Linked DNA regions of Homo sapiens. The protein of the gene in region 4 interacts with the protein of the main gene of each other region in a biochemical or structural test. Each region holds a gene or a part of one and is shown on either strand. Other genes may lie near its edges. The genes, in order: NTRK1, PXN, PDGFRB, PTPRB, NSF, GAB1 and LCK.

Region 1 (3,500 bases), on a different chromosome or scaffold from region 4:
GAGAAAGCAGTCAGAGGGAGGAGAGAAAGCAGTCAGAGGGAGGAGGAAAGCAGTGAGTCCCCTGCCTACTCTGGGACTCATTCCTTCATGGGACGAGGGGGGATGGAGGTGGGCTGCTGGGCCTCAAGGAAGAAGATGCATGTGACCCTTTTCCAGCTGGGCCAGGATGCCCTGCTGCATGGCTGTCTCCTCAGCCAGCCGACAAGGACGGAATAGCTCAGGAGTTCAGGAGTCCTGGCTTGGGGAGAGGGTAAGGAGGCCAGAACAGCGGGACACCAGGACTCCAGACTCCTTTCTGTCCCGAACCAGGCACTCCAATTTCTGGGGTCAGGGCTATAGCAGGAAGTTGGCTGTAACCCAGGAGGAGCCCAGGAGTGGGGGCAGGGTTCAGGATGGCCCTCGCACCAGGGATGGGGTCCTCGGGGTTGAACTCGAAAGGGTTGTCCATGAAGGCAGCCATGATGGAGGCGGAGGCCTGGCCGAAGGGGTTGGCAGCCAGCAGCGTGTAGTTGCCGTTGTTGACGTGGGTGGGCTGGTTGAGGCGCAGACACCCGTGCCGCACGGTCTCATTGGCTGCCGGCTCCAGGAACTCAGTGAAGATGAAGCTGGTCTCATTGAGCACGGAGCCATTGAAGAGCCAGCGCAGAGACGGTGCCGGCTGCCCATCCACAGAGAAGGGGATGCACCAGTGGTGCATCTCCACCGCCGTGTGCAGCTGCACACTGGCCGGGACTGTGGGCCAGAAAGAGCAACAGCAGGAGGTCAGGGCGCAGCTGGAGGGAGCCTGGCACACACCCGACAAGTCCACGGGCAAAGCGAGTAGAACCCGAAATCAAAGGGCAGGCCTGGGAGAAACAGGTCAGCAGGCCCTGGGAAATTCACCAAGGAGAGATGTTTTGAAGAAAGTTGACAATACATTTTAAATAAATCAGGCAGCAGGCATATAAAATTTAGAGGCTTAAAGAACATAAGTGGTGGGCCATAAATAAGTCACAGCCCCACAGGAGTGGGGTATCAGCTTATGACAATTAAACATGGAGTCTTTGGGATAAGGAATCTAGAAGAAGTCAGTGTAACCAAGCTGAAGAAGATGGGTCAGGGGCCCTAACAATCAAACCAGCCAAAAATATATACAGTTAAATTTTTGGGGAAAAGCCAGGCACAGTGACTTGCTCCTGTAATCCCAGCTACTCAGGGGGCTGAGGTGGGAGGATCGCTTGAGGCCAGGAGTTCAAGGCTGCAGTGAGTTATGATCCCAAAGCATTCCAGCCTGGGCAACAGGCTGAGACCCCATCTCTTCAAACACACACACACACACACACACACACACACACACACACACACACTCTTTTTGAAAAAAGATATGCGTTTGAAATAGACCCAATCTGGGCCAGGCGCGGTGGCTCACGCCTGTAATTCCAATACTTTGGGAGGCCGAGGCGGGCGGATCACGAGGTCAGGAGATCGAGACCATCCTGGCTAACACGGTGAAACCCCGTCTCCACTAAAAAAATACAAAAAATTAGCTGGGCGTGGTGGAGGGCGCCTGTAGTCCCAGATACTCAGGAGGCTGAAGCAGGAGAATGACGTGAACCTGGGAGGCGGAGCTTGAAGTGAGCCGAGAGCGCGCCACTGCACTCCAGCCTGGGTGACAGAGCGAGACTCCATCTCAAAAAAAAAAAAAAGAAATAGACCCAATCTGGTAAAAGTAAAAGCCCCTCAATGATAGAAAAAAAGTGTATGTATGCATAAATATATGTATATATATATATAATATAGCATTCATACATAGGAATACTATTTAGCAATGAATTGCATGAGCTACATATAGCAACTCCCATTAACATGAATGAATCTTATAAATATAATGTTGAATGAAAGAAACCAGATACAAAATAATACACGCAGTATGATTCCATTTATATAATGTACAAGAACAGGCAAAACTAAATGATACCGATAGGAAAGCATATTTGAGAAAAATTATTTTTAAAAGCAAGGAAATGGTTATCCTGACAAAAGTCAACATGAGATGGGAGAGTGGGATGGGATTGCGAACAGGGAGAGGTGTTGGGTGGTGGGGGATCTTCCGTGATGCTGGTAAGAGTAATTATTGTTTAAAATATATATATTTTTTGCACATTTCTATGTATATTTCACAATAAAAGAAGAAAACTGATGTAAAGTAGAATATTTAAGATAATTTGTTGGCTGATCTAGAGAAATTAGGCAGCGAGCGTAAAGAGGAACTCAGGAGGAGAATTTCCTCTTTTGAAACTAGGATGCGGGGAGAAGGACCCGATGAGGGACGGGCATGAAAAAATACTTCGGAGCAGTGGGAACAGCCGGGCATCTGGCGTTGAGGGCCTCAGGTAGCAAGGCTCGGGCAGGGGGCCAGAAAGAAATCCATCTCCATCCCTCTGGCCTTGACAAGACCCCAGGACTTCCCCCAAAGGATCAGGTTTTCATGGGAATCTGGAAACAGCTGGGAGGGAGCAGCTGTGGAGACACACATCCCACCCTTTCTTCCAGCCCCCCACCCTACATCCTCTTTTGAGGGAAGAAGAGATGAGTAGGGGGTGGGTGCCGGAGCTGCCACTGAGACTCACAGGAGACGTTGACCTGAACAGAGACCTCTGCCCGGCCCACATCGTTCTCTGCCCAGCACGTCACGTTCTTCCTGTTGAGGTCACTGGTGACATTGGCCAGGGTCAGCCCCAGGGATGGCAGACCCCCAGATTTCTAGATCAGGAAAGAGAGGGGGGAATAAGAAGGAGCTTTAGCCAGCTTGGGGCTGGGGCTGAAGTCTTTGGAGAGCCCCTCTGGCTCCAGATGGAAAGGAGAGGAGGGCTGGGAGGGAAGAGAAGGGAGAGAGGGGTGGGAGAGAATGTAGCAGATAATGGCCTTCCTCCTTTAGGTTTGTTCGTTGACTATCTCCTGGATCACATTTTTTTTTTATTTTATGTTTTATTTTTGTAGCGACGGGGTCTTACTGTCCTGCCCAGGCTGGTCTTGAACAGGGCCTCAAGCAATCCTCTCACCTCGGCCTCCCAAAGTATTGGGATTACAGGCGTGAGCCACTGCGCCCAGCCTGGATCACGTATTTAATTATCTGAAAAATCTAAAATCTAACCAGTAGCCTCAAAATAGGCACAAAATATCCCAAACTGAAACTAAAACCAGCCATCTGAGCAGCTAAACAGATGTCACGCATCCCAAGTACCAAATTTGTACACAGCTCGTTGGAGACCCCACTAGGACCTCACTGCCTATTCATTCCTGTTTTACACACAGTTCTAACAAACTGAGTCTCAGCCCAAGGAAGATCAGAAACAAAGAGATGGTGCAAATAGCACAGCAGCAGTTAGAAACAACAGCAGCGGCATCGCCTCCTGCAGCAGATGAGGACCATGGGTGAGGTTAGACAGGCAAAGTGACTTGATTCTGAATCATCGTCAGGATTGAATCAGATCAAGTTTCTCTTCCTAGGAAACCGTGGA
Region 2 (3,500 bases), about 50 Mb from region 4:
GTCACAGGGCCAGGCTCAACCCTCCACCCCAGCCACACTCCTGTCTCCCACCATGAAACCTCAGCTGAAGGGAGGCTAGGAGACACCATCAGGGCCAAGGGTGCAGGGACCGTTCACTCCCCTCTCATATTCCCTAGGTCATGCCCCAAAGGTCTCCAGCTGACCCACGTGGAAGTATGAAGTCAGCAGCTGCTGGTGAGTTCTGTCAATATCAATCCCCAAGGAAACACTGAATCCTCTAAATTAAACATCTCAGGCCTGGCAGGACTGGGGAGGCCCAGCAGGGGAGGGGAAGGGCAGGTACCTCGTGCAAGCCTGGCCCCATGGTTTCCCACAGACACGCTCGTGGGAACTCAGAGGCCCTGGAGGGCGAGAGGGAAGGATGGGAGAAGAGTAGCAAGGGAGGCTTGTGGATTCAGGATCAGAGGCAGAAAGAAAGAGGATGTGTTGAGGACAGCTAGCGTGGGAGATGGGGCTCCAGGGCAAATGACCTCCCAGGCACAGGCTCCCAAGTCCCACATGGCCCAGCAGAGAATGCCCTCCCCCACCCAGAGCAGCCATCAACACAAGGTTCTTTGTCCCAGCGTCCCAGCCTCCTGATCCCCTCGACCTGAGAGGCTGGGAGCACCCAGGGAGGAAGGAATGTCCCAGCTGAGCACTTCTCCAGCTTGTCTGCCTTCACTGGCTACTGCAATCCTCAGGCAGGCTGACCCGGCCCTCCCTCCCCATCTCCTGGCATCACAGCAAGGCCAGGGCATGACAGTGTCCCTGGCTCAGGGGCAAGGCACCCAAACACTGAGATGCCAAGATCCAGCTACCCACACTGAGGTAAGGGAGGAGAAGGATGAGGGAGGGGCGGCAGGGCAGGGAAGATGGAGGGTTCACAGGGCACCTTGAAATCCGACAGCGAAGCCATCAGCTCGTCCAGCTCCCTGGTGGCAGAGGAGGCCGAGATGCGTGTCTGCTGTTGGGTGGAGGTGACGCGCTGCGGGCTGCTCATCTCGCCCTGGTTCACAGTGATGGCAGGGCTGCAGGGTGGGCACAGCATCAGTGGGGAGCCCACAGTCAGCCCCACACTTCCCGGGGATCAGATCGACCTCTCACCTCGGACACTGGGGTCTCACCATCCCCAACCCCAGGGAGGTCCACCAGCTCCCTGTCTCTCCTGGGGACCCATCACTGGGTCAGAAGAAAGGGCAGTTCAATGGCACCAGGAAGTGCCAGGAAGACTCCTCTAGCCCCCAGCCCAAGTGAAAGCTGGCCTGCGAAACAAGCCCAAGCGCCCTGTGTTTCCTCCACAACACTGGACATGGAGGTGAGGCTACTGCAGTAACACGACGGCACTGGTAAGAGCTCGCGTGTTGGGCACTCACCATGTGTGCCACGCACTACACACCAGAAACCATTCCAAGCGCTTTACATGGATTACTGGTTCTCACCCTTACTGAGGTAGGTGGTCTTATCCCAGTGATCCCATAAGTTCTTGTCCCATTTTACAGATGGGAAAACTAAGGCTTGAGAGCTGACAGTAACTGTCAGAGCCAAGATGTGAACCCCACTGTGTGGCCCCAAAGCCTGTGCTAAGAGCTGCTAAGCTCCAGGCGCCCTCAGCCTGCACAACGTCTGTCCTTTCTGACTGGCAGTGACTGGCTGAAGGCAGGGATGGTGTCCATGTGACTCACCACTATCCCCCCAGTGCCTGGCAAATGGCAGACACGGGAGGGAGTGGGTGATACCAGGGCTAAGGGGACAGACACTGGACCCGGGGCAGGCTGGGCCAGCCCTTCCCCACCTGGGGAGGGCCCAGTGGGTACTCACACGGGGCTGGGCACGGAGCTCTCCAGTTCATCCAAGAGACTCTCCACACTGGGCCGCACGTCCTCCAGGCCCCGGCCCCCATTCCGCTTAGGCTTCTCTTTCGTCAGGGGCCCAGCTTTGCCTCCCAAGGGGCTGTTAGTCTCTGGGACACCATAGAGGGGGCTCAGGGCCCCAGGAAGCGGGGGGCTTGAGTTGGCCTCATCTTGCAGAGAGGAGAGAAAAAGGCTGCTCAGCCCTTGAGCCCTCCTGGGATCTAGAGGTCAGCAGATGGGCCCTGGGCCCTGGTAGACCCTGCCCCAGGGACCCGGTCCTACCTGCAGGGAAGCCTGGCGGGTTATGCTGTACAGCGTTCAGTTCCAGCAGCAGGCGGTCGAGTTCAGAAAGGTTGCTGCCCAGGGACGTGCTCATTACGGTGGGTGAAGGCTCAGCTGATTTCTGCTTGTTGGGGAAGCTTTGAGAGGCAAAGGAAAGAAGATAGTGAGAGATGCTTTCTGGCCTTGTACTGGCTTGGCAGTTCCCAGATTCCCAAGGAGAACAAGGCAGAGGAGATGCGAAGTCTTCCCCCGCAAGAGGACAGAGGGTAGGGAAGGGATGTGGTAAGAAGAGGGGAGGAGGCCGGGCACAGTGGCTCACGCCTGTAATCCCAGCACTTTGGGAGGCTGAGGCGGGCAGATCATGAGGTCAGGAGATTGAGACCATCCTGGCTAACACGGTGAAACCCCGTCTCTACTAAAAATTAGCCAGGCGTGGTGGTGGGTGCCTGTAGTCCCAGCTACTTGGGAGGCTGAGGCAGGAGAATGGCGTGAACCCAGGAGGCGGAGCTTGCAGTGAGCCGAGATCGCGCGACTGCACTCCAGCCTGGGCGACAGAGTGACAGAGCGAGACCCCGTCTCAAAAAAAAAGAAAAAAAGAAGAGGGGAGGAATGAAGTCTTGCTTCAGTTCCTCAGCTACACGGAGATGCTGTGATAGCCCAGAATGTCCACTGCATGGAGATGGCACTGATGAGGTAGACGGGCCCACCGACAGGCCTTCTGCAGCTTAAACCAGAATAACCCCACAAGGCCCAGTTGCTATGCCTGCTCCCGGGCCTCCGCTGCCTCCCACCCTGGCCAGGTCCCTGAGATTTCTAAGCAGGAGGGAAGGTGCCCTGGGCAGACTGGGGCAGTACCTGTAGACGTGCTCCTCCTCACCCACTCGGGAGCACGGAGAGCCAACACTGTCCTGAGGGTTGGAGACACTGGAAGTTTTGGCACTGGAGCCGTACACAGGTGATGAGGACTGAGGCTGCGAGAAGGAGAATGCTCAGAGGCTACCCCGAGGGGAGAAAAAGGAACAGGGGCCAGGAGCAGCTCCAGTCACCCCCAGGAGGCTCCTGCCCACAGCCAGTCTCACCAGGGAATTTCCACAGTTGGGCCAGGAAACCTGTGATTAACCACTTGGTCACTGTTCCACTCACGTGGTGAGTGGGAAGAGCAGTGTCTGGTTGGGAAGGGTCGACTGCCCCAATTCCATTCCATCCCCTGGCTCCCTAAGCCCCTGCCAGCTAAGTTCCCTCTGTCCCCCAGCCTCCTTGGCCTTCCCAGCCACTGTCCCCGCCTCACCTGCTGGTGGATGAATCGGGAGCTGCTGGGCTGCCACTGGTCTAAGGGGTCAAGGATTGTGCCATTGAGGGCCTCGCTGG
Region 3 (3,500 bases), on a different chromosome or scaffold from region 4:
CTAGAATCCATCTCCTGAGTTCCAGGCTCCCTCTCCCACTCCTCCCATGGGTGGGTGGACAGTGCAGGAAGGGAGAGGGAACGGGGGCAGGGAGGGGAAGGAGCAGGGACATGGCGAGGGGCGTGCTCATCACCATTGATCTGTAGCTGGAAGGAGAGCTGGACCTCAGCATCCTCATGGAAGGCCCGCATGGTGTAGTGGCCAGCCTCTGCCACCTTCACGCGAACCAGTGTCAGCTCTGACACATACCTGGGGAGCAGGAAAGGCAGCTGTCAGAGTCGGAAGGACTCTTACAGTTCTCCCCACCCTCCTGGTATAAAGAGGAACAAGGCCCAGGGAGGGGAAGGGCTTGCCAAGGTCATCTCGGCATTGGTAGCAGAGCCGGGACTCAAACCAGGTCTCGTAAATCCTCACCCACAGGCAGTTCCCCTAGGCCAAGAGGGAGGGTTGAGATGAACTGTGGGTGGGGGTGGGGAGCATTGAAGGAAAGTCCTATTTCTCTCCCCTTCAGAAAGGTGGACACTGCTCCATCCTAACCTACCACAGTCTCTGTCAGCCAGCAAATCTCCAGCCTCAGGGATACCACAGGCCATGAGTGGCCTGCCTGGCACCCTCTTCCCCAGTCATCTGCCCGTTTACTTCTTGGCTGCTACTGCTGGCCCCACCCATCACAAGGACAACTAAACATCTGGGTGATCATCTGACCGGCGACTGTTTCCTCCACTAGACTAGAAACTCTAGGAGGGATGAACTGTCAGCTCTGGTCGCTGCAGCATCCCCAGCACCTGGCACCTAATATGCTCTCAGAAAGCTGGGCCTAGGTTTGTGGCTGAAAGCCGAGGGCTGCCTGGCGGCTGCAAAGAAAAATAACTTCAAGAATGGGATGGGAGAGCGAGCTGCTCACCGGGTCTCCGACACGTTGCGCGTGGACAGGGCGATTTCGCCAGCGCTGGAGTCGCCCAGGGTGCGGTTGTCTTTGAACCACAGGACAGTGGGCGGTGGGTAGGCCTCGAACACTACCTGCAGTGTCCGGCTCCGATGCAGCTCAGCAAATTGTAGTGTGCCCACCTCTCCCAGGAGCCGCACGTAGCCGCTCTCTGCAAGGGGTGACCGTCAGGGGCGGGGCCCTGGGGGCAGGGCACCAACTGAATCCCAAAGGAGGCCAGCCTGTGGGGTGGGGCTTCAGGCCTGGGGACCGTGCCAGCCATGGAGTTTCCGGAGCTGAGGTTGAAATTGGGCTGGGGACAGGGCCTGGAGAAGGGGCCGAATTTGGGGCTAATATGGATGCTGGGGCCAGCTCCCAGGTTGGGAACAGAGTTGTACTAACAGTTCTCTGTTCTGGGTCAGTACTGTGGCTGATGCTGGGACTAGTGATAAGGTTGAATTTGGGGATGGGGCTTCCCGGACCTGGGATGGCAGTTGGGCTTGGAAGTCAGGTTGGGGCTGGGGCTCTGGCTAGTCAGAAAGTCTAGGTTGAGATAGGGTTGGATTTGGGGCTGACACTACATTTTGGTTTGGGGTTTATCCTGGAATTGGGGTTTTGGTTGGCACAGAGGCTAGCTAGGGCTGCACTGGAGTGTGGCTGACTATACCCCGGGGCTGTGACAGGCACTGGGTCCAGCTCAGCCCTGATCACTGTATCAAAAATGCAACTCTCACCATCACTCTGCACCCAGCAAAGTGGGTGAGGGTGGGGAGCGTTGAAGGAATTGGGGATTGGGCTGAGCCCAAGGCACACACCAACCACGGTGATGTTGATGGCCTTTTCATCCTGATGGTCATTCACACTCTCCGTCACATTGCAGGTGTAGGTCCCCGAGTCTTCTAACTCGGCACTGGGGATGTGCAGGATGGAGCGGATGTGGTAAGGCATATCCAAGAGGAAGTCAGTCACCGGCTCCACCAGCCGCCCACTCTGCAGCAACAGGTTGGGCAGGCCCCCCAAATCAGGAGGGGCCGGGGAGAAATCAGCCTGCAAGCCAGATATCCACCCGTTCCTGGCCCCTCCTCCGACCCCTGCCTGGCCCCACATTACTTCTTTGCGGGGGTATGTCCACTCGAAGTTGACCACCTCATTCCCGATCACAATGCACATGAGGGTGATGTTCTCACCCTGGCGGACCACAGTCTGCACTGCGTTCACAGAGACGTTGATGGATGACACTGGTAGAGAGAGATTGGCTTAGGTCTGGGGAAGTCACCACCAGCCACTAGCACTTCAGCTTGGGGATAGGGTAGGGGGCTAGAGAGGGAAAGGATGACTGATGTAGAAGATTCATTCATTCAACAAATATTTACTGAATACCTACTACATGCCAAGTACTATTCTGGACACTGGAGCAACAGTAGTGAACAAAGTGGACAAAATCTCTGTTCTTATGGAGCTGACGTTCTAGAAGGGATAACAGTCTGGAAATCAAAGTACCCTCTGGAGATCTATGTACAGGAGAAATGTATTGAGCACATAACATGTGCCAGGTACTCTCCATCTTTTATTTAATCTTCACAATTGATCCTATGAGGTAGGCAGCCATTGTTATCCCCACGTTACAAGAGGGGAAGCAGGCTCAGAGAGATTATGTGCTTTGTGTAAAGTCACTCAGACAGGAAATAGCAAAGCTGGGATTTCGACCCAGCTGGCTCTGAAGCTTGTGCCCTCACCGACCATGTTGCACAGGCCAGCTCTGCCACTATCGAATTCTGCGACAGGGGACAAGCTCCATCCTCTCTCTGCGCCTGAGTTTCCCTCTTCTGTAACATGGGGAAAACACTATCTTCCTTCGAAGGCTGTGGTGAGAATCCACTGGGAAGTGGAGTCCCACACTTTGTAAACTGTAAAGGGCTATTCCTCTGTGGAGGGTTATACTTGCCTCTGCTGAGCATCAGGCCAGAAAGGGGGCTCACCCTGGAGTCTGTAGACATAGTAGGCATCAGAATCCACCTCCCTGTCCCCAATGGTGGTTTTGCAGATGTAGCTTCTGTCCTCAAAGATACCAGAAAAGCCACGTTGGTGATCATAGGGGACAGGCAGTGCAACGTCCCCTTTCTTCTCGTGCAGTGTCACCACCAGCTGTGGGTCTGTTACTCGGCATGGAATGGTGATCTCAGTTATTTCCGTGAGAAAGATGAATAGTTCCTCGGCATCATTAGGGAGGAAGCCCACGGTGGGATCTGCCAGGAGTGGAGCCGTGAATAAATCAGGGGAACTGGGTTTCTGGCCATCCCCTGAATTGCTGTGTGGCAAGTCATTTGCCATCTCTGGCCCTCTGTCTCCCCGTTACAGAATAGGGATGCTCCCAGAAGAGCATAAATCAAATGTTAGAGCTGGTCCCTTCCAGCTCTAATGTTTGATATTGACAGTGCCAGGGTAAGAAAGAAGGCAAGTCACAAGTTGAAATGCAGCTGATATCTGGAGCTTGGAGAATGGGGAAGAAGGGATGTGGGGTCAAGAGGGAGCAGATTGGAAGCAGCTGAGAATATAGAGTTCTTGGGAGGCAGGA
Region 4 (3,500 bases):
CTAAAATATGAAAAAGGCAAAAGGGCAAACTCATAACTCTGGAAATAGTCATGGCGTCTCTTTACCAAATGCCACACTGTCCGCAAATGTGTGAAGTGTCTCTGAAGGGCTCAGTGGAAATCTAGCCAGGGCAGTACCTCTGAGAGTACACCAACACTGTTGGTAACAGATGACATTTTGGTTATTAATGAAGTAAAGAACTGAAAACAGGAATTTAGTTGGAGACGGTCAGCTGGAGAGTCTATTATTATGTACACAATACTGTAGGTAACCAACTCAGTACTTACAGGACTAAAGGTTAAGACAACTATATTCTTCATGATAATGTCCTGGAAGATTTTTCTCATTTTAAAGCAGTCACTTTTGGCCTTTCTCCTGAACAGACAGATGACAAAAATTGATAAATGAGGAGCAGGTGAATAGAAGACAGAGCACTCTCCTTCAACAAACTGCAGTTTTATTCCTGTACTAGTGAGAATGTATGCAAGATGCTATATAGATTTTTTTTTTACCACAGTTACAAATATAAAAATGTATTAAGCAAATACATAATTTAAATTGAAAGACTAAGGAAGTTCTTTGTTCAAATACAGTTAGTTAGAAATATTGTGGGTAGATGCTATAATATGAAAAAATAGAATCATCTGCCATCTTAACTGGATTTTCAGAGAAATAATAAATGATATTAAAAACATAAAAGTGCTCTATTATAGAACATAAAAAGTTCAGTTGCTGTATTTACTTACATTATTTATGCTTCACACAAATGAAGGAATGGCTAGATTAACCTGCACGGACAACAGTATTATTGGACACTGACTACCTAACATCCAAAATATCAGGCCAGGAGCAATTTCAAGAAGTGTGTGTAGAATGTCTATGAGCTGTGCACTAATTTCCACAAGGTAGGAGTCGAGACGAGATTAAAGACTTGGTCCTTGTTCTTGAGGAATTTATAAGCCCAATAGTCCTGCATAGAAAACCAGAAATACTCTTCCAGTAGAGCACTGGTGCACCCTCTTGTCAGTGTGGCAGACTAGGACATTCCACAAAGGCTGGTACAGGCTTTCCTACTAACCTGCAGATGGAATGCTGTCCAACTCTGCCACAAACTCTTAAAGCCACAATTTCATGTGTTCCTTTCTTGATGGAGGTGCTTATCTACGCACACAGCTATTAGAACATCTCAGCATAACTGAACGTTTGTTCTTGGGGTGAGGATATTATTTATTAAAATAGCTATAACCAATTCTTTTTGTGACTGTTCTAGAAGGGACACATTGCATTTGTCTGACATTATTCACAGTTTTGAATAACTTATTTTGGTGTCTTATATAAGATCATGTGAATTGGCATAGAGGTTATAAAAATAATCTTTGGTAAACCTGTTAATCTCTTATTTCCATTACATAAGCCTCTATTTTCAGAGCATTCACCAACAATTTCTTTATTTAATAAGTGTATCTTATATAGACAATCTTTTAAAAAATAAAATGCCTTATTTGTGTTGCATACATTTATTCCGAGGGAGCCTCCCTACAAGTCAAGAGTATTCTCTTAGCCAGAAATACTTCTATTGCTAGAAACATTTTTAGAACAGAACAGATTTTTCCTGTTATCATGGCTGCATCAAATGTTACCCTGCATTTTAACTAAAATGGCCAAACATTTTCAAAGTCATCATGCACTACAAGAATCTAAGGCAGTGTGTCTAAAATGCCAAACCCAGTACATTTAGTTAAATATCTGGTCAATTCAAAAAGCAAAATAAATTGATTCAATTGTTTAATCAGTTAAACCATCTGGCCAACATAGAGTGAATCCTCAAAAGGGCAACATGTCCTAATAGAAACGTGTGACAGGATTGTCCAAGCACACCCAGGCCACACAGAAGAGATGCCATTTTATCTTCATGATGATGTCTGGTTAGATTCTGTTTTGCAAATATTTTCTCTTTGCATCATTTCACTTGCTTTTTGCAGTCATCGTTTACAGATTTTCCTTTGATAGGGAACATTCTTTGAATACCTGATGTAATTCTAAATTTCAGGTTAAAAATAGCAGGGCAGAAAATTAGCACGGCATTTTCTCCTTCAACTCTTCAGGAATGAGGTAGGCTTGAGGGCTTGCTCACTGCAACTTGGAGGAGGATCAGTTATTCCTTATTGCCACTCTGTCTTGGCTAATCAGTTATATTTTCATTTCCTCAGTGAAATGGAACCCAGAAAGCCCTTGAACTGCTATCATATACAAGCAGTTTATTACCTATTGATTTTCACCAGGTCAGGTTTGGTCTGGCTCATGTTTGTAAACTAAAACTCTAGAGCGTCTCAGAGTTTGGGCTCAGATACTACCACTGCTGTTGTGCAGATCTGGTAGCTTTATGATTTCAGGATTCCAACCTCAAAGAATTCTTAGAAAGCTAAGTGAATGAGAATTTAGTATATGGCCAATAATATTATTGCAAAAGGTAAGGAAAATGTTTAACATAAGAAACTGGATCCTTAAACAGCAAGGCAAGAGAATCAGCATGTGAAGGGTAGCATGTGAGGTCTATTTTTATATTGCTGGACATCTGGTAAATGGTTTAATATTATTTTCACATGTCATTTTGGGCTTTCTTCCGAGAGGTGATTACAAAATTTATCAAAGACCCTCCCAAAGAAAACTGCCCCGAAAATGTCTGTGTGCTGTGTGCCTTTTAGTATTTAAAAGTGAATTGGCCAGGTGCGGTGGCTCACTCTTGTAATCCTAGCACTTTGGGAGGTTGAGGTGGGTGGATCACCTAAGGTCACGAGTTCAAGACCAGCCTGGCCAACATGGTGAAACCCCATCTCTACTAAAAACACAAAAATTAGCCAGACATGGTGGCAGGCACCTGTAATTCCAGCTACTTGGGAGGCTAAGGCAGAATCGCTTGAACCTGGGAGGCGGAGGTTGTAGTGAGCTGAGATTGTGCCACTGCACTCCAGCCTGGGCAACAGAGCAAGACTTCATTTCAAAAAAAAGTGAAATTATGGTCATCTCTTTGATGATGTGGAACCTGAAAGGACTATGAAATTATACTCATGGGTATAAAAGATAATATGAACAGTAGATAAAAATCACATTCAACTGGGAAAACAAACATATTCAAGTAGGAGGAGTGGGGCAAGTAATAAAACAGAGGGACTCAGAGGTTTAAGGGATAGAGAATTACTTAGGACAAATATGTGCAAGCCCAGGTAAGAGAGGTGAGTCTTTGAAAATTCTGATTCAAGAGCTGAACAATTGGCTGCTTTCCAGAGAACAACAGAATGACAATACAAAATTGATTTAATGAGATGAGGTTAAAGGAGTTAATTATAACGAACTTGGAAAAATAATTATTAAGATGCTAGATGGGACTCTCCCAAGATTTGATAGCTCAAAAGCACTTTGAAGTCTTGATGATTAAAGTGTACTGCACAGGTACACAGACAGGATGCCCACCAAGACAGGAAATGGAGTGTTTACCAAGA
Region 5 (3,500 bases), on a different chromosome or scaffold from region 4:
TGTGGTTCTGCTCCTGCTTCTTTCCACTCATTCTCTTACTCTGTGTGCTCAGGTTATATGGTAAACGAGCCTTTCAATTCCTTGAACCTGTAGTTTCTCTTACCACAAGGTCTTTGCGAGTGGTGTTTCCTTTCTTTGTAACGTTCTTCCCCCCAACCATTTACCTCCTACTCAGACATCACTTAGCTACTCAAGGGAGGCCTACTCTGACCCCACATTATAAGTCAGGATCCTTTGTTATATACTCTTGAAGAACTGTATTCCTCTCCTTAGAGATTTATCTTTTTGTTACTTTGAGTGTGTGTTATTATTTGCTTCTACCACTTCACCTCAGTGAAAAGCAGAGAACATACAAGTTATTTAGTCATTATCAACTGCGCTTTGTGTACCTTGTGGGACTTAGGTACTCAATACATTTTTGTTGAAAATGAATCAGTCTCTGAACACTCTGGTGATAGATGGTATATTACCCTAAAGCTTGCCTGTAATGTCATACAGCTATGTTAGGTCTTTGTTATCTGGAGTTCCATGTAACTTTTATACGTAGTTACTATTTCTGCTGTTTCAAGCCATACGGAACTAAACACAATTCTTTTTCCATGTAATAGCTACTCAAGCTACTCATTTACTTGAATACAGGTTACATATCTCCTCAGATTTTCGATTTTGCAAGTTAAACATCCCCCAATTCCTAGCATATTTCATATTCCAAACCCTTCATCATTTAGGCTACCTTCCTCTGGAAGTAACCTAATGTTACTGTTTTGTCAACCTTTCTTCTAAAATGTGCCCAGAGTGGAACACAGTGATCAGAGAAGAATGTACTTAAGCTATTATTGTCTTGAGATGGACACTACCATTATTCATACCAGATAAAATTGTATTAGCGTTTTTTCTATAGTAAATCACATTCTTGGCTCATACTGAGCTTGTAGTCAGTGAAAACTCATGTTCTTTTAAAATCAGCTCCCTAGCTCCATTCTAGGTTTAGAGCAGTTTTATTGAACCTAAATCAAGACCTTATCCTTTTACAATTCATTTTTTTAGGTCAGTGCATGTCTGCTGTTTGTTGAGGTAATCTGGATTCTTAGTTCTTTCATGTTAGGAAACATAATAGCTGTCTCTTCCAGTTTGGTTAGATCTGTAGGTTTAATCATGACTTCTGTTTCTACGTTTGAGTTATTGGTAAAGGATAGAATAAGACAGGGTCAGAAATAACCCTTGGACATGCTGCCAGTGACATGCCTCTAGACTGATACCCATTAATACACTTGGGCACTGTTGCTTAAATACAGATGTGTCTCATTTAATTCCAACAAAACAACCTGCAAAGTAGGTAGTATTATCTTTGTTTTTTTGCAGAGAGAAAGAGAGAGAGATTTAGTAACTTGAGAAGTTCACATAGCCAGCAAGAAGCAGGGTCAAGATTTGAACTCAGATCAGCCTGGTACTGTTACCTAGTTCACCAGCTTAGTTGCAAGAGTGTAGTAAAGACTAGGTTTACCTCACCTAGAACTTTTTGGACATAATAATGTTCAGAAACTATCTTCTACCTTTTGGAAAATCTGAAAAACTTTGGCCCATCTGATTGTCTATCATTTCTTCTGATAGCCTTTATTTTCTAGTAACTACTGAGTGATTTTTAGCAAAAATAGTTCACCTTGTTGCAATACTTTTATTTGTGCATATTTATGGAGTACATGAAAATTTTTTTACATGTGTATAATGTGTAGTGATCAAGTCAGGGTACATGAGTCCAATGTATTAAGTATAGTCATCTACTCAGCTATCAAACATTGAATTTATTCCTCCTATCACTGGATCTTTTTTTTTTTTTTTTGAGACGGAGTCTTGCTCCGTCACCCAGGCTGGAGTGCAGTGGTGTTATCTTGGCCTCACTGCAACCTCTGCCTCCCGGGTTCAAGCGATTCTCCCGCCTCAGCCTCCTGAGTAGCTAGGATTACAGGCATGTGCCACCACGCCCAGCTAATTTTTGTATTTTTAGTAGAGACAGGGTTTTACCACATTGGTCAGGATGGTCTTGGACTCCTGACCTGGTGATCCACCCGCCTTGGCCTCCCAAAGTGCTGAGATTACAAGTATGAGCCACCGCGACTGACCTCATTGGATCTTTTTACCTTTTAACCCACTTCTCTTCAGCCTTTCTCTCCCTTACTCCGCCTTCCCAGTCTCTGTTATCTATTTTTCCACTCCCTGCCTCCTTGTGTTCAAATTTTGTAGCTCCTACATATATGTGAAAGCATGCAATATTTGTCTTTTTGTGCCTGGCTTATTTCACTTAAGAGAATAACCTCCAGTTCCATCCACATTGCTGCAAATGATATGATTTCATTCTTTTTATGGCTGAATAGTATTCCATTGTGTACATGTATGACATCTTCTTTATCCATTCATCTGTAGATGGACACTTAGGTGGTTGATTCCATATTTTTGCTATTGTGATAGTACTGCAATAAACATGCAAGTGCAGCTATCCCTTTGATACATTGATTTCTTTTCCTTTGTGTAGATACCCAGTAGTGGGATTGCTGGATGGAAGGTAATTCTATTTTTAGCTTTGAGAAATCTCCATACAGTGTTCCTTAGTGGTTGTACTAGTTTACATTCCCACCGACAGTGTATGTGAGAGTTCCCTTTTCTCTGCATCCTTACTAACATCTGTTACTTTTTGTCTTTTTAATAATAGCCATTCTGACTGGGGTAAGATGATATCTCATTGTGGTTTTGATGTGCATTTCTCTGATAGTGGTGTGGAACATTTTTCCATGTCTTCTTTTGGCCATTGTATGTCTTCTTTTTTAATGGGATTATTTGTTATTTTCCTTTTGAGTTGTTCGAGTTCCTTGTATGTTCTGGATATCAGTCCTCTGCTTGATGAATACTTTGCAAATATTTTCTCCCATTCAACAGGTTGTCTCTTCATTCTGTTGATTATTCTTTTGCTGTGCAGAAGCTTTTTAGTTTGCTTAAGTCCCATTTGTTTAGTTTTCTTTATGTTACCTGGGCTTTTGATGTCTTAATCATAAATTCTTTGCTTACACCAATGTCCAGGAGTGTTTTCCCTAGACTTTCTTGTAGTATTTTTATAGTTTTGGGTCTTAAAATCTTCAATCCATTTTGAGTTGATTTTTGTATATGGTGAGAGATAGGGGTCTAGTTTCACACTTCTGCATGAAGTTATGCAATTTTCCCAGCATCATTTATTGAAGACAGTGTCCTTTCCTTAGTGTGAGTTCTTGTCAGTGTTGTTGAAGATCATTTGTCTATAATTATGTGGTTTTATTTCTGGATTCTCTATTCTGTTCCATTGGTCTACATGTCTATTTTTATACCAATACCATGCTGTTTTGGTTACTATAGCTTTATAATATATTTTGAAGTCAGATAATGTGATGTCTGCAGCTTTGTTCTTTTTGCCCAGGTTTGGTTTGGTTGTTTGGGCTTTTTTCTTTTTCCTTTTTTGGTCCCATATGAATCAC
Region 6 (3,500 bases), on a different chromosome or scaffold from region 4:
ATATATATAAATGTGCATGTAACATCAGATGTTATTGACAGTAGTTGTTACCATAGAATGCATGTATCTTTCTCACTGTGTGTATCCACTTAATTTGTTCATATGTCCAATCCCTGTCACGGACCTGATTGCTTACTTGACAGTGGAGGAGAAGACCTACCAGAATGACCCGAAGACAGAAATGGGAAGGATCAGCCCACCTCAGCATTATTAGAGGGCCAAAGGCTCTGTAGTGAAAGTAGTAATACCAACACTTTCAACGGGCCAAAAAAGAGGCACTAGGAGTGTTTGTGAACACCCAAGAATTATGATCAGTATCTACAGCATAGTGTGTAGGCATAAAGTAGTTAATATTTTAACAAAATATAAAAATACTGTTTTCTCTAAAGGGGGAAGCAGACAACTTCCCATAAGTAGAAAAAGAAAAACACTGGTGTTCAATTTCAGGTTTAAATGCATTTATGAAGGAAGACTATAATCCCCATTAATTAAATATAAAAGAGTCCAGCAGAAATTATGACCTTAATGTACAAGTAAAGTAGTATTTCTATATCAAATTAAATTTAGTCTATGATTAAATACAATGCTATATATACACACACATACAGACACACTCATAGTACCTTTATGGAATTCTCTAAAATGCTCACAGTAACTTATATAGTATTGATAATGATAAAGATGTATAAACTGAAGTGTAGATTTAAAAAATCTTTTACATCTTACTAAATGATATCTTCCATGGGTTAAACAGCTTTTTCAAGTTTGAATTTTAATTTTTGAAAGCAGAACTGTGCTTCAGTATTCAAACCTTCATAAAATCTTACAATTTTTCAGAATAAGGAATTAAGGTAAAGAACTCTAATGTGGAAGAAAGATTTCCAATCTCCAAGATCATAACTGTCACATCGTTAACCAGTGGTTTTTAGCCCATTCCTGGCCAAAGTCTAGCTTCTTGGAGGTGAGTTAAAAGGGTTTGATTCAAATTTAGTTTTTATACGTGCATATTTTAAAACCTAATAAAAACGCACATTCTGATGTGTTACATACCCTACTTTACCACACTGGAGACTGCTTATGTATTAACTTCCACTACCAGGATAACTTATTTTTGTATAGACCTTGAATAACTTTAGCTATCTCTAATTAAAGAATTTCCTGAGATGTATGTTTAAAACCTATTATTTTTGCTTACATTTGTGTGAATCAAAATTTTCTTGATAGTATACAAATAAAACAGGGCATAGCTATAAATTGGCTGCTGGTTTCATCAACTATGTATAACTCCACATTTGTGTTATTCAGAAATAACTCAGAATCTTATTATGCTTAGTAATGAGCCAAAATGAATAAGCATAAATGTGAACCCAAAATACATTTATATTGATAAAATTGAGTTTTCAGGCTTTATGTATTGGGGTTATACATAAAATTTCATCTAAAAAGATTCTAGTGCTAAAAATGTTTGGAAAATACTGCTCTGTAAGAAACTTTTAATTTAATTCTCTAATACAATGTTCAATGTGATTTAGTTTTCTAAAGCAAACTGCCTTTCTAATACATCACCATTTTTAAATTATTCAGAATGAAAAATTTTCTGAAAATCAGAGTGCTACAGATCTTCAAATATGGTGACTTGTAAAAAGTTAATGATAAGTTAGACTAAAAACATTCATTAAGTGCTTTAGACCCTTGATAGGCAGCTGTAAAGATTTTTATTTTTGAATTAATCATGTATTTATTATTGTGTTTTAAATCTTAAATATATTCATCCTCCAAGTAACAGAATTTAGCATCTTTACACATTAGCTGTATCGTGTGTTTTGATAGTTTAGGCACATTTCAGGATTTTAGATTTCATTTTGTTGTTTCATTATAAAACAGCTTGCACACCAAACTCAATCAATCTTTTTTATTTAAAAATCCACCTAAAAATTCACTTCTGGGTTTTAGTTTTTGTTTAAAAAGAAGCAAATATTTAAAAGCATCAAATGTTACTAGTCTACAATTCATCTTGTTATGAACATTTTTAGTTTGAGGATTGGGAAAATAAACCTATTACATTGATTAGGCACAGTACTATGGCCAATGGGCCAGAAATCAGGGCACATCTGTGTACTCAGGCAACAGTTAGAGGTCTGAATGGAGGGGGTCATGCCTCAACTGTGGGCACTCCTTTCTCTATGCCCCCTCCAAAAATTGTTATAAGTCTCAAATCAGTACATGAGATTGTATGTAACTTGGTTAAAAAACAACTATACGTGCTTTCTAAATTATGTTGCAAAGCCAAGACAGACGAATATAATTGTAGCCTCACTACAACTTGTGGTCTTAATATCTATGTCACAGGACCATGTTATAGGTGAGACAGAATTATACCATCCCTCTGGTGTTTTCAGAAATCTGGTTGGAAGGAGTCCATGACTATAACATTTCACATTGTAGCAAGGCTCCAATATTTCTTGAATTGGGGCAGTGAATATAAATCACAGTACAAAATCCGTAATTCTTTCAGTGGAAAAGCAACAGGTGCTACATACGAGAATCACTTATATAACATCTATTTTTTTTAAAAAAATGCAGATATAAAATATTAATTGCATAGGGAATTAAATATAAGGCCAAGAAGAATATTAAGTAAAAAAAATCATAGAAAGGGCACTATGGTGTCAAAAGACAGAATTTCATAGAGTAATAAATCTGAATTACTATCTAATTAAAAATCACAGTATGTTGCTGTAACTAACAGTGAATGTCAACTGCTTTATTAATTCCAAACTGAAAACCAATATTAGGACTAACAAGAACACAACCAAAGCTCATTGTCTAAACCTGATCAGTGTATTAGCACATCACTGCCTGGTACGTACCTGATTGGTTACATAATCTACCTTTTGCAAATAACACTTAATACATGTTAACAAGTGTAAGAGCACATCATCACTGCATGCCATCAATGATTTGCAGGCTTACTTGGTAGTGTAATTATTCAGTCTTTCAAAGGTGCAAGATCCCACCCGGCAGAATCTTCACTCAATGAACCAAAAACACTGTAATTAACAAAATATAACAAAGTTCCACCATTAAAAACTAAATGTACATTAACCAGAGAACTAGGTCCTGACACCAGTACATACATTATCCTCAGCATTTTGGAAGGCAACAAATGATGAGTCCAAGTATAAGCTAATGGTTATCACCTGAAGCTTCAGGTAGAAAGCTAACTTGTGAATCTACCTCTCATTTTAATGTTGTTAGACTGTAAACAGCAATTTCCAAATCTAAAAGTAGCTTAGTTGACTTAGTATTGTTATATAAAGTAGTGTGACAAAAAACAAGAACTCCCAAAGGAATTATGGTAAGGTACATTGGGAAAACCCAGAACAATGTTTTAGATGAAAAAGTGCATAAATACAGTAATACTACGAGTGTGTTAACTGTGGAACAAATGTTTCTCTGGGAGCTAAACAATACTATTTTCCCACATTATTTACATGTTA
Region 7 (3,500 bases), on a different chromosome or scaffold from region 4:
AGATACATTCCCTATGGGTTTGCCTCTGTGGGAACCGGGAAGGAGCAGTGAGGACCCCTGGCAGGATAACTGGAGAATATTTCTGTATTTCCAGCTCCAGCACTACCCCTGGACGCTGGTTTGGGGCAAGCCCAGGGCAGGGAAGCCCCTCAGCTTTTCACCTGTTTCCAAGGTGGTTGTTTTTGTTTTTGTTTTGAAACAGAGTCTCACTTTGTCACCCAGGCTGGAGTGCGGTGGCATGATCTCAGCTCACTGCAACCTCTGCCTCCTGGGTTCAAGCAATTCTCCTGCCTCAGCCTCCTGAGTATCTAGGGTTACAGGCGCGTGCCACCATGCCCAGATAATTTTTATATATATTTTTTTTAGTAGAGACGGGGTTTCACCATGTTGGTCAGGCTGGTCTCGAACACCTGACCTTGTGATCCACCCGCCTCGGCCTCCCAAAGTGCTGGTATTACAGGTGTGAGCCACTGCATCCGGCCTTCCAAGGTGTCTTTACCTTCCTTGGAGCAAAGGTCTGTTCACCTTGCTCTGGGGATATGGGAAGCTTCTACAAATCTAGCCACTGTGCCGCATGACCCCCCTACTCCTGTCTTTATGCTCCATTTCCTTTCCCCAGAGTTTCTTAGCAAGTTCCTTTCAAAAATTCCATCCCTGTCTTGGCTGAATTCAGGGGTAAAGGGCTTTGTCCAGGAGATGGTGGGAGGAGTCAGTGTATACTGACAACCTACTATGAGTCAGGCTCTTTCACAAATGGTCTCTCATTTTTTCTTTTTTCTTTTTCTTTTTCTTTTTTTTTTTTTTTGAGACAAATTCTCTCTCTGTTGCTCAGGCTGGAGTGCAATAGAACAATCATGGCTCACTGCACCCTCAACCTCCTGGGCTCAAATGATCCTCCCACCTCAGCCTCCCAAATAGCTGAAACTACGGGTGTGTGCCACCATGCCCAGCTAATTTTTAAATGTTTTTTTTGTTTGTTTGTTTTTTTTTTTTTGTAGAGATGGAGTCTCTCTTTTTCTTGTTTTGAGACAGGGTCTTGGTCTATTGCCCTAGGCTGGAGTGTTATGGCATGGTCTTGGCTCACTGCAACCTCTGCCTCCCTGGCTCAGGTGATCCTCCCACCTCAGCCTTCTGAGTAGCTGGGACTAGAGGCACATGCCACCAAACCTGGCTAACTTTTGTTTTTGTAGAGATGGGGTTTCGACCAGTTTCCCAGGCTGGTCTCGAACTCCTGGGCTCAAGCAGTCCTCCCACCTTGGTCTCCCAAAGTTCTGAGATTATAGGCATAAGCCACTGTACCTGGCCTAGTCTCTTATTTTTAGTATCAGGAAACTGAGGCTTAGAGAAGTGAAGTGACTAGCTTCACTAGTTACAGTAATGATCTGAACAAAGCCAAACAGAAAGTTAGCAACAGTGGCAGATCTGCTGATAAAAGGTAGGCCTCTTGTTCCTGAGCTAGATCTTCTTCTACCATACCAGGCTGCCTGGGCCAGAACTAAAGAAAAGAGCTGGGGCCGGGTGTGGTGGCTCACGCCTGTAATCCCAACACTGGGAGGCCGAGGCAGGCCAATCACGAGGTCAGGAGATTGAGGCCATCCTGGCTAACATGGTGAAACCCTGTCTCTACTAAAAATACAAAAAATTAGCTGCGCATGGTGGCACGTACCTGTAATCCTAGCTATTTGGGAGGCTGAGGCAGGAGAATCACTTGAACCCAGGAGGCAGAGGTTGCAGTGATCCAAGATGGCGCCACTGCACCCCAGCCTGGGAGACAGAGCAAGACTCCGTCTCAAAAAAAAAAAAAAAAAAAAAAAAAAAAAAGAAAAAGAAAAAAAGAGAAAAAGAAAAGAGCTGGGGTTATTAAAGAGAGATACGGAGATGGAAGCCAGCCCTGGGAGATGTGGCATCTGCCTGGGGACGTTGGACTCATACCCCTGAGAAGATAGAGGAGATGCAGCTACAAAGTTTCAGATTCTGAGACTGGAAAGAATTGAATGGGAAGACATGGACTTGCCCTTCCCATCACCCTTTCAGTTCCTGCCCTTGGCTCTAACCTGGGTAAGGGATGCGGCCGTGGGTGACAATTTCCGTCAGCAGGATCCCAAAAGACCACACATCTGACTTGATGGTGAATGTCCCGTAGTTAATGGCTTCTGGCGCTGTCCACTTAATGGGAAACTTGGCCCCTAAGGAGGAGGCAGAGTGAGGTCACCTGGGTCTGCTTGGCCAGACCCTGCAGGGCCCAGACCACCCTTAAATCTCACACGTACCCTCCCTGGCTGTGTACTCGTTGTCCTCAATGAGGCGTGCTAGGCCAAAGTCTGCAATCTTGCAGCTCAGGGTGTCAGACACCAGAATGTTGGCAGCCCGAAGGTCACGATGAATATAATTCCGCTCTTCAATGAATGCCATGCCTTCTGCAATCTGCAGGCCAAACACAGATCAGCGGTCCTGAGCCAGATGTCTTCACGTCACTGGTCTGTTCCCTTGCCCAGCCCCCCTCCCCAGTCTCCTTACTTGGGCTGCCATGTCCAGGAGTTTGTTGATGGTCAACTTGATGCCTGAAGGGGTCTTGAGAAAATCCACTAGACTCCCTGTGGGCAGAAGCAAGAGTTGCTGGCCCAAGTTGCCCCAGGGGGAGGCCCCCAGACCTTTCTCCTCCAACTGGGAGTCTAGAAGTGTGTCTGACATGTGAAAAGGAAGATTGAAGAGTGAGAATGGAGGAGTGTGTGTTCAGGGTAAGGATGCCCAGGATATGTAAAGGTTTTTTTGCAGAGGGGCTAGGGTAGAGCATGCTGGGAGGGATCTGTAGGTTTTTCATCACCAATAAGGTAGAACCTAGAATCCTCAACTAGTATCCTAAGCTTGGCATGGTCCACACTGGTAGCTTCTTCTCTTTCCCCCACTCTGCCTTTGACTTCAAACAGTTTAGCAATTTTGAGATCCTGCACTCAGACCACTAGGCTCTCACCCCAAAGCCTCTTTGTTTCATCTCTGCCTGCTAAAAAAAATTCTACTTTTCTTTCGTGGCCCTGCTAGACTGCCCCACTAGGAAGCCTCTCTAGATCCTACCAGGCATAATAAACTGGATCATCATCTACACTCCCATGGGCATGCTGGAACTTTCCCATGGCACAAACTCTGGTTTCCCCAGTAGCTGTAACTAAAATCAGGTTTCCCTGACAACAGGAACCTTGTTTCATCCATCCATGTTCCTGGTGCCCAGCCGAGAGTAAGAAACAATAACTATGTGCTGAATATATTGGATGGAATAAGAAAGAGGGGGTCTGGGGGTCTGAGGGACCACCTCTCTAATAGTGGAGGGCAGCTGGACATGGATGGGAGTTGCTAGGATGCAGTGAGTGACCAATGGCCCTTCCCAAGAGATTAAAACCCTGTAAAAGGATGACAGCAACCTGAGTGTCCCCACTTTGAGTGCTGAACTAGTTACCAAAGACAAAGACCTCACCTACACACAGCAAATACATAGACATAGATAT

Evidence for each region.
Region 1: of the proteins of PTPRB (region 4) and NTRK1, one has a biochemical effect on the other in vitro, tested with the Homo sapiens proteins (one large-scale study listed by IntAct).
Region 2: of the proteins of PTPRB (region 4) and PXN, one has a biochemical effect on the other in vitro, tested with the Homo sapiens proteins (one large-scale study listed by IntAct).
Region 3: of the proteins of PTPRB (region 4) and PDGFRB, one has a biochemical effect on the other in vitro, tested with the Homo sapiens proteins (one large-scale study listed by IntAct).
Region 5: of the proteins of PTPRB (region 4) and NSF, one has a biochemical effect on the other in vitro, tested with the Homo sapiens proteins (one large-scale study listed by IntAct).
Region 6: of the proteins of PTPRB (region 4) and GAB1, one has a biochemical effect on the other in vitro, tested with the Homo sapiens proteins (one large-scale study listed by IntAct).
Region 7: of the proteins of PTPRB (region 4) and LCK, one has a biochemical effect on the other in vitro, tested with the Homo sapiens proteins (one large-scale study listed by IntAct).

Annotation. Positions count from the first base shown.
Region 1 is NC_000001.11:156,870,865-156,874,364, reverse strand, and holds part of NTRK1 (high affinity nerve growth factor receptor isoform 2 precursor), read right to left. Parts: intron 2,743-3,500; coding exon 2,610-2,742; intron 733-2,609; coding exon 406-732; intron 1-405. UniProt on the Homo sapiens protein: Receptor tyrosine kinase involved in the development and the maturation of the central and peripheral nervous systems through regulation of proliferation, differentiation and survival of sympathetic and nervous neurons.
Region 2 is NC_000012.12:120,220,731-120,224,230, forward strand, and holds part of PXN (paxillin), read right to left. Parts: coding exon 3,421-3,500; exon of another isoform or gene 3,104-3,420; coding exon 2,988-3,103; exon of another isoform or gene 2,270-2,987; coding exon 2,133-2,269; exon of another isoform or gene 2,021-2,132; coding exon 1,819-2,020; exon of another isoform or gene 1,029-1,818; coding exon 893-1,028; exon of another isoform or gene 585-892; intron 196-584; exon of another isoform or gene 1-195. UniProt on the Homo sapiens protein: Cytoskeletal protein involved in actin-membrane attachment at sites of cell adhesion to the extracellular matrix (focal adhesion). Recruits other proteins such as TRIM15 to focal adhesion.
Region 3 is NC_000005.10:150,131,846-150,135,345, forward strand, and holds part of PDGFRB (platelet-derived growth factor receptor beta isoform 1 precursor), read right to left. Parts: intron 3,172-3,500; coding exon 2,905-3,171; coding exon of another isoform or gene 2,871-2,904; intron 2,164-2,870; coding exon 2,036-2,163; intron 1,916-2,035; coding exon 1,741-1,915; intron 1,098-1,740; coding exon 905-1,097; intron 250-904; coding exon 134-249; intron 1-133. UniProt on the Homo sapiens protein: Tyrosine-protein kinase that acts as a cell-surface receptor for homodimeric PDGFB and PDGFD and for heterodimers formed by PDGFA and PDGFB, and plays an essential role in the regulation of embryonic development, cell proliferation, survival, differentiation, chemotaxis and migration.
Region 4 is NC_000012.12:70,515,430-70,518,929, forward strand, and holds the end of PTPRB (receptor-type tyrosine-protein phosphatase beta), read right to left. Parts: 3' UTR 441-3,500; downstream 1-440. UniProt on the Homo sapiens protein: Plays an important role in blood vessel remodeling and angiogenesis. Not necessary for the initial formation of blood vessels, but is essential for their maintenance and remodeling. Can induce dephosphorylation of TEK/TIE2, CDH5/VE-cadherin and KDR/VEGFR-2.
Region 5 is NC_000017.11:46,593,669-46,597,168, forward strand, and holds part of NSF (vesicle-fusing ATPase), read left to right. Parts: intron 1-3,500.
Region 6 is NC_000004.12:143,469,376-143,472,875, reverse strand, and holds part of GAB1 (GRB2-associated-binding protein 1), read right to left. Parts: 3' UTR 1-3,500. UniProt on the Homo sapiens protein: Adapter protein that plays a role in intracellular signaling cascades triggered by activated receptor-type kinases. Plays a role in FGFR1 signaling. Probably involved in signaling by the epidermal growth factor receptor (EGFR) and the insulin receptor (INSR).
Region 7 is NC_000001.11:32,278,765-32,282,264, reverse strand, and holds part of LCK (tyrosine-protein kinase Lck), read right to left. Parts: intron 2,595-3,500; coding exon 2,518-2,594; intron 2,425-2,517; coding exon 2,271-2,424; intron 2,187-2,270; coding exon 2,055-2,186; intron 1-2,054. UniProt on the Homo sapiens protein: Non-receptor tyrosine-protein kinase that plays an essential role in the selection and maturation of developing T-cells in the thymus and in the function of mature T-cells. Plays a key role in T-cell antigen receptor (TCR)-linked signal transduction pathways.